Linked DNA regions of Homo sapiens: regions 1 and 3 are each linked to region 2. The links come from fine-mapping of genetic effects on gene expression. A gene starts in region 2. Each other region holds a variant in brackets. All regions are shown on one strand. Distances are between the middles of the regions. Region 1 overlaps TANGO2 (transport and golgi organization 2 homolog). Region 2 holds the start of DGCR8 (DGCR8 microprocessor complex subunit). Region 3 overlaps DGCR8 (DGCR8 microprocessor complex subunit).

Region 1 (2,633 bases), 37 kb after region 2:
CACTTGGCAGAAGCCCGTGTACATCCATGCACCAGCTGCCACCATCAAAACACCACAGGGGTGAACAATTCCACAAGACTGGAGCTGCTGGGGTTGGCACTAGTTCAGAGGCAGCTGACAGACCTGGGTGCCAGGGTGGGATGGAGCCCAGGAGGGCACAATAGTCAAGGAACCAGAAGAGGGTAACCCTCTGAGCCGCCACATCTTCATCTATGAAAACCTTCCACCTTCCAAGGACATCAGTCTTGTGCCTTCACCCACCCGTCCTGACCAGCCCTGCACCCACTGCATCCTCCTATACCAGCAGGCCTAGGACCACCCTGCCTCAGTCTCCATGCACCCGTCCTCCTCCCACACGGTGCCGGGACCACCCAGCCTCAGCAGCATTCTCACACTACTGCCAGGCCACAGGCCTACACAGGAGTCCTCACAAAACCCCACAGCTGAGCTTTTATTTGATTGATTGATTGACTGATTGAATGAGACAGGGTCTCGCTCTGTCACCCATGCTGGAGTGCAGTGGCACAATCTCAGCTCACTGAAACCTCTGCTTTCCGGGCTCAGGCAATTCTCTAGCCTCAGCCTCCTGAGTAGCTGGGGCCACAGGCACATGCCACCACGCCTGGCTAATTTTTGTATTTTTTTTTGTAGAGACAGGGTTTTACCATGTTGCCCAGACTGGTCTTGAACTCCTGGGCTCAAGTAATCCTCCTGCCTCAGCCTCCTTAAGTGTTGGGTTCACACCTATAATCCCAACACCTGCCCTCCCGGCCTGGGAGGCAGCACAGGGCACACACAGCCTCCATGGGCCCACGAGGTCACACATCTGGCCTGAGTGGGCACCCTGGAGCATGCCAGGATGCCTCGGGCCCACTTGGCGCCTGGTACGCAGGCAGAGTAACCCGTGGCCTCACCAGCCATCTATGCGCACCTTCCAGGTAGACTCCCACCACCCCATGGGCAGGAACTGGTTCCTGTCCAACAGGACTTCAATGAGGCTGGTATCTTTGGTGGGGAGGACCTGGTTCTCACCCCTACTTCTGCCCTATAAGTACACCTAATGCAACACAGGCATGGTGCAGGTGACGGGGCTTCAGCACCACCAGCTTCCCAAACTCAGCCCCACCATCCCTGAAGCAAGGGTGCTCATATACAAACAGAAACACAAACACAGGCACACACACGCACGCATACACACGCATGCACACACTCATATGACTGGGTTGCTTCACAAAGTGACTGAGTGTGGATCTGTACATCACACAAATCCACCCACATGCCCTCAGCAAAAAGGAGGGATCCATATAAAACCAACTGATGCTTTCACATGATGGGGCCCCCATGCAGACGCATGGCACAGGAAGCCACGCAGACAGTGCTGGGTGGGCAGCTCTGGCAATGCCCGGTGCTGGGGCTGGCCCCGACCA[C/T]GAGCCCCATCAGTTCCACCTCTACACCCCGCCATCACACTTGGAAGCAGCACCACTCAGTTAGGGTCACTCGGGCCACGCAGGGGCTAGGGAAGCAACAAGGCGCAGCCACCGCTGAGCACGCAGGAAGACTCACCACTGAGGATCTCGTTGTTGTTCCCCCAGAAGTCAGCTAACTTGGAGGGTCGGCTGTAGAATTCATCCCTGTTGGCTGCCAAGATGAGCCTGCAAGAGGAAAGCATCACTGATGGCTTCAGATGGAAACGAGCGAGCCAAGTCTTTTTCTCTTTTCACACACAAAACTGGCCTCAGTGGCAACAAGGGCCAGTCTCAGAGAGGGCAGGAAGCCGGCAGTCCTGCTGCACCCACACTGGAGGAAGGAGCACCGTGGCTCCAGGTGAGCTCTCGGGAGCCTGCAGCTGGGACCGCACGGGAAACAGGAGGATGCTAGGCAGGGACACACATCCACACCATTCAATGGCGGGAGACGGGTCTGCCAGGCCCTTAGGGGCACCATGGAGCCTGGGCTCCATGCCGGGAGCCCAGGCTGGAGGGTGGGGGGCTGTTCCTCCTTCTGTCCATCTGTCCCCAGCCCTGGGAACACCCACAACAAACCCGTGGGCTCTTGGAAGCGTGAGCTCAAGGATACAGATTGAATGGCACAGCATGTGGGCCTCTGAGGGCTGCTCCATTCTGTGTGTTTTGGAGTTAATTTCTCGGGTTGGTTGGGAGTGGATGGGAACTTCACTGTTTTACTAGTTTTTTTGCATTATGAATCAAACAAATATTTCCATTTTTATTTATTTTTATTTTTTGAGATGGAGTCTCTCTGTGTCACCCAGGCTAGAGTGCAGTGGCGTGACATCGGCTCACTGCAACTCCCGCCTCCCGGGTTCAAGCTATTCTCCCGCCTCAGCCTCCTGAGTAGCTGGGATTACAGGCACCCGCCACCACACCCAGCTAATTTTTTGTATTTTTAGTAGAGATGGGGTTTCACCATGTTGGCCAAGCTGGTCTTGAACTCCTGACCTCAAATGATCTACCCGCCTCGGCCTCCGAGGCGGAGGATTACAGGTGTGAGCCACCACATCCAGCCTAATCAAACAAATATTTCTTTTGGAATTAGGAGAGACATCTAAACTTTAAGAGCCCTGGTCTTGAGGAAAGAAAACTGACTTTCAAGTCCCAGCTTGGACATTAGAAGAA
Region 2 (2,633 bases):
AGAGGTGGCCAGAAACACCAGGCTGGAAATCAGAAGAGAGGCCAGGGCTGGAGCTGTGAAGATGTCAAGGAAAGCTGGCATTAAAGTCAGGAGGCTGGGTGACATCACAAAGGAGAGGGCTACAACAAGAGAGTCTAAGACTGGGCAAGCCAGCCAGAAGCACATTTCCTACCCCAAGGTCACGGTGAGACTACAAAACAACCCCTGGGAAGTGCTCCACACAGCGCCTGGCCGCAAAGGGCTCAAAGGGGAGCTCTCTGCCCGTAGGCCTCCCCACTGCTCCAGCTGACCAAACACCGCATGCAAACCCTGCCTTGCCAACAGGACTATCGGACAGGAACGGGCTCACGGCAAGCTCCCCTGGACCCTTGGCACGGGGAGAAAACCCGTACACTTGGACAGCACCCTTCCTCCTAGCCCACTTGCTGTGTTGGCTAACAGAGGCACTGGCTGTGACGGGCCAGCACCAGTGCCAGCGCCATGGAGGCTGCCTTTTGGTCAAGTCTCTCCCGCTGCAGCCTCCCGCCCAACCCAGCGGCAGTATGACCTCATCCGTTCCTTTTGTCATCCTCCAACAGGCCTCATATCCCGCACTTAGAGGCAACACTGGGTACCCCGGGCTGGCCATTCACTCCCTTTTGTGAGTGAAGGCCTGCAGCAGGGTTTGGGCCACTCCCACAGCTGGGAGTCTAGTCTGGCCAGGAAACAGTGGATCCTCGCCTGGTGGTTGGCCTCGAACAGTCGACAGCCAAAGACAGGACTGCCGTGCAGGAACAAGGTACATGCAAGCATGCAAAAAGGCAAATCAGACTCCTGCCACAAGAAACCCAAGTCCATCGGTTGACACCAGACAGGCATCACTGTCAACAGGTTGCCACCTTCCATTTATTTCCGCCATGCTCATTGTTACAATAAAACCGTATCCCAATTATCTACGTGACACTCAACCCGTGAGCATTCTGTGGACAAAAAGACTTAGGCGACTTCTTGGATTTCCCAAACTGTGTTAAAGCCGGCAGGGTCCCAGGCGAGCACTGGCCCTGTCCACACCTTTCCCGCCTGAAGGCGATGCTAGGCTTCGGGCCCTCCGGGAGAGGAGCCTCTTTACCCGGGCGGACAGCGACGAGAGTCGGCAACGCCTGGGCCCGGGGCCCGCCCCCCAGCCCCGGAGGCGTCCCCACCCCGCGCTCTCCACCGCCCGCGGCCATGTTGCCTCACAAAGGCCGGGCTCCGCGCCCCCGCCCCGCCCGCGGCCTCGGTCCCGGAGGGAGGCGGGAGGGAAGGGCGCGCCCTCGCGCAGGCCGCGGCGCCCGCCCAACCGCCCGCGGGCGCCCCTCGCGCCCCGCACCTACCTGAGGCGCCCGCGGGCTGCCCAAGCCGCCCGCAGCCAAACCACAGCCGGGAAAGCCTCACCGACCGACCGCCGCAGCCATCTGGAAAGCCTGTCCAGGCTCTCCGGTCGCCGGCACCCGCCTGCCGCGCCGGGCGAGCGGAGGGCGGGCCTTCGCGGCGTGCGGCCAATCCCCGCGCGCGGCCGCCCCGCATTGGGGGAGCCGCAGAGCGCGCTGCGGAGGCCGCCAATCGGCGGCGCGTAGCGCGTGTGTCCGCCGCGCGCGGCCCAATAGCGCGGCCGCGCGGGAGGGACCAGGCGCCCAGGCCGCGGTCGCGCTAACAGTCGCTGCCCAGGCGGGGCTCGCTGGACTGAGGGCGGCGGCCGCGAGGAGCGCCGGGAACGGGAAGCACCGGGAATGCCGGGAGCAGGGGAGCGCGGGAAGCTCGGGGAGCGCGGGGAATGCCGGGAACAGGGAGCGCGGAGTACGCCGGGAGCGGACACGCAGACGGGCCACCTTCGGTGGACACTGCAGAAGAGACCGTGCACACACAGGCGTTACACAACCCTGTTAAAAGCATCACTGTATCAGACATCATCATTTATAAAGAACGCGTGTGCTCAACTGTCTGGCGCTGTCCCCTTTGCTAATACAGGATTTCCAAAACAGGGAGGGTTCGGCCGGGCACGGTGGTTCGGCCGGGCACGGTGGCTTGCGCCTGTAATCCCAGAGTTTTGGGAGGTCGAGTCAGGAGGATTACTTGAGCCCAGGAGTTCGAGACCAGCCTGGCTAACATAGTGAGAGCCCAGTATCTACAAATTTTCTTTCTTTTTTTTTTTTTTTTTGAGGCGGTGTCTCGCTTTGTCTCCCAGGCTGGGGTGCAGTGGCGCGATCTCAGCTCACTGCAACCTTTGCCTCCCGGATTCAAGCGATTCTCCTGGCTCACCCACCCGAGTAACTGGGATTACAGGCGCCCACCACCACGCCCGGCTAATTTTTATATTTTTGGTAGAGACGGGGTTTCACCATGTTGGCCAGGCTGGTATCAAACTCCTGGCCTCAATTGATCTGCCCGCCTCGGCCTCCCAAAGTGCTGGGATTACAGGCATGAGCCACCGCGCCGGGCCCAAAATTATTTTTAATTAGCCGCGTGGTGGCGGGCGCCTGTGGTCCGAGCTACTCGGGAGGCTGAGGTGGAAGGATCACCTGAGTCCAGGAGTTCCAGGCTGCAGTGATCCGAGATAGCACCACTTTCACTCTAGCCTGGGCGGCAGAGTGAGACTCCGTCTCAAAAAAAAAAAA
Region 3 (2,633 bases), 24 kb before region 2:
TCATCACCCTGGCTCTGCAGCCAACCCAAGAACACACAGGAAGGACAAGAGAGGCAGACAGGGAAACAAGAGGTGATGGGGAGATTCCACACAGTGAGGCATAGGGAAGCTGCAGCAGGCTGAGGTGCAGAGACATTGCCCACTGTGCCTTCCCAGACTAGGACTTTGGCTGAAGCTGAGAGTGCCTCCTGGGTGAAAGGAAGATGCTATCCAGCCCACTCTGGAGCATGGACAACCTCCCTGGTGGAGCTCCTGTGACAACATACCACAAAGTCAGTGGCTTAGAACAAGAGGTTTATTCTCTCACCATTCTGAAGTCTGAAATCAAGGCCTCAGCAGGGCCATCCTCTTTCAGAAGCCTCTAGGGAGCCTCTGCCAGCTCCTGGTGGCCCCGGCATCCCTTGGCTATGGCAGCATTGCTCCGATTTTCATATGGACTACTAGCCCTGCCCCTCCTCCCTCTTCTTAGAGAAACACCAGACACACTGGATCACACCACTGCTCTGCTTCAGTGTGATCTCATGTTAACCTAATTCTATCTGCAATCATCCTCTTTCCAAAAAAGACCACACTTTGAAGCACTGGAGATTACCCATCAGCCACACCCTCACAGTGCTTCCCCCACTGGCCCTGTTCTGGAGGGGTCTGCAGGGACCTGGAGCCTGCCTGGCCCATGGGCAGCGAGGAAACCTAGAATCAAATGATTCACACGCCTCGCTGTGCAGGCTCCACAGTGTGCCAAGCCCGCTCCACAGGGACACTGGCCCTACAGACAGGGCAGTGGGCAGCTCCTCTGCCCTCGCCGCTCCAGCAAGCAGCAAGGCCAACTCGCTGCAACTGCATAGAAGAGGAAGGCACTAGCCCTGAGGTTGGCAAGCGAAAAATCCTCGAGGTATGGCTTGGCTACTGTCTTCAAATAGGTCCCCAGAAGACACTGCTCCTCTCAAGTGCACAAATCAACATGGGTCTTTTTCCAGGGAAGGTCACTCACCAAGACATCAGGCCCTGGAACCTCAAGGGTTTGTCAACCAGCCAACCAATTAGCAACGTCCAGTGCTGTCGGCCCACAAGAACCCACATACCCCACGGCTTCGGGACTGGCCCTGGAGAAGCTGAGGCAGTGGCTGACACACACACAGCTAGAGAGCACGCTCAGAAGTTTCTGGCAAAAGACCGACGCCAGCCGGGCGCGGTGGCTCACGCCTGTAATCCCAGCACTTTGGGAGGCCGAGGCGGGTGGATCACGAGGTCAGGAGATCGAGACCATCCTGGCTAACAAGGTGAAACCCCGTCTCTACTAAAAATACAAAAAAAAATTAGCCGGGCGCGGTGGCAGGCGCCTGTAGTCCCAGCTACTCGGGAGGCTGAGGCAGGAGAATGGCGTGAACCCGGGAAGCAGAGCTTGCAGTGAGCC[A/G]AGATTGCGCCACTGCAGTCCGCAGTCCGGCCTGGGCGACAGAGCGAGACTCCGTCTCAAAAAAAAAAAAAAAAAAGACCGACACCAGGATGCCCTGCACCAAGCTGCCTGAGGCCACATGTGCTACTGAGGGTTAACCCGCCAGGGACAGGTGGAGGCTCCAGCTCATGAGAGCAGACAGATGGCAGAAGTGACCTGCAGACAAATCCCTGTTGCTTCTGACAAACAGCACAGGAGAAACCTAAGCAATCAGTGCCTGGCAGATGCCAAAGGACCGTGTGGGAGCACCACAGACGCCCGACACCTCTACATTCCACTATCTATATGAGATGGACCAATGCCTGGCAAGACACAAACTATCTCAGTAGCCTCAACAGCCCTACACCTGTTCAAGAAACTCAACAGTAGTTCAGAGTAGTCATAGTTATAGTTAGTAGTTCATACAGTAGTAGTTTAAAACTTTCCCATTAGGAAAACTCCAGGCCCAAATTTTAAGGAAGAAATGATACCAATCCTATATCTGTCCTGCCCTTCTGAAAAACTCAGGAGGAGGGCTACTTCCCACTTCGCTTGATGACACTACCCGTACCATGACCTTAACACCAAGAACACAGATGCAGCAGGGAACTAGCAAATTAAAGCCATTAACACATGAAAAGGAACATATACCATGCCCAAGTAGGACTTATCCCAGGAACACATTTTTAAAAAAACAACGTAATTAACTACATTAACAAATTAGAGAAGAAAACTGGATAAGGAATCTACAGAAAAACTACTAGAATAAATCAGTGCAAATAAAACAAATTCTAGCTCTGTAAGCTAGCAATAAACAATCAATTGGAACTAAGGTACTATTCATCACAGTGCCATACATAAAATATTTAACTATAAATCTAGTAGAATATACACAGGGCCTGTGTGATGAAAACTGCCGACCACCCATGAAAGATATCAAAGAAGACCTAAATAAATGAACAGATGAACTATGTTTATGATTTGGAAAATCCAATATTGTTAGGATGTCCATTCTCCCCAGATTGATCTACAGGATCAATTCCAATCAAAATGCAGGCAGATTTTTTTTTTTTTTTTAAGATGGGGTTTCGCTCTTGTTGCCCAGGCTGGAGTGCAATGGCACAATCTCGGCTCACTGCCACCTCACCTTCCGCCTCCTGGGTTCAAGCGATTCTCCTGCCTCAGCCTCCTGAGTAGCTGG

The links.
Region 1: its variant is fine-mapped to the expression of DGCR8 in whole blood (INTERVAL, PIP above 0.99).
Region 3: its variant is fine-mapped to the expression of DGCR8 in CD4 T cells (Kasela 2017, PIP 0.95).

Annotation. Positions count from the first base shown.
Region 1 is chr22:20,042,374-20,045,006 of GRCh38, reverse strand. It overlaps TANGO2 (transport and golgi organization 2 homolog), which reads right to left. Exons shown (of 9, transcript NM_152906.7): 3 at 1,564-1,652. Among named protein-coding and RNA genes, the nearest start is that of MIR185, 11 kb to the right of the region's middle. The variant C/T (reference allele first, on the strand shown) is at 1,428.
Region 2 is chr22:20,079,103-20,081,735 of GRCh38, reverse strand. DGCR8 (DGCR8 microprocessor complex subunit) reads right to left here and starts at 1,495. Exons shown (of 14, transcript NM_022720.7): 1 at 1,353-1,495. RefSeq lists an enhancer at 677-736 and a silencer at 997-1,616.
Region 3 is chr22:20,103,015-20,105,647 of GRCh38, reverse strand. All of the region lies in intron 9 of DGCR8 (DGCR8 microprocessor complex subunit), which reads right to left. Among named protein-coding and RNA genes, the nearest start is that of MIR6816, 10 kb to the left of the region's middle. The variant A/G (reference allele first, on the strand shown) is at 1,415.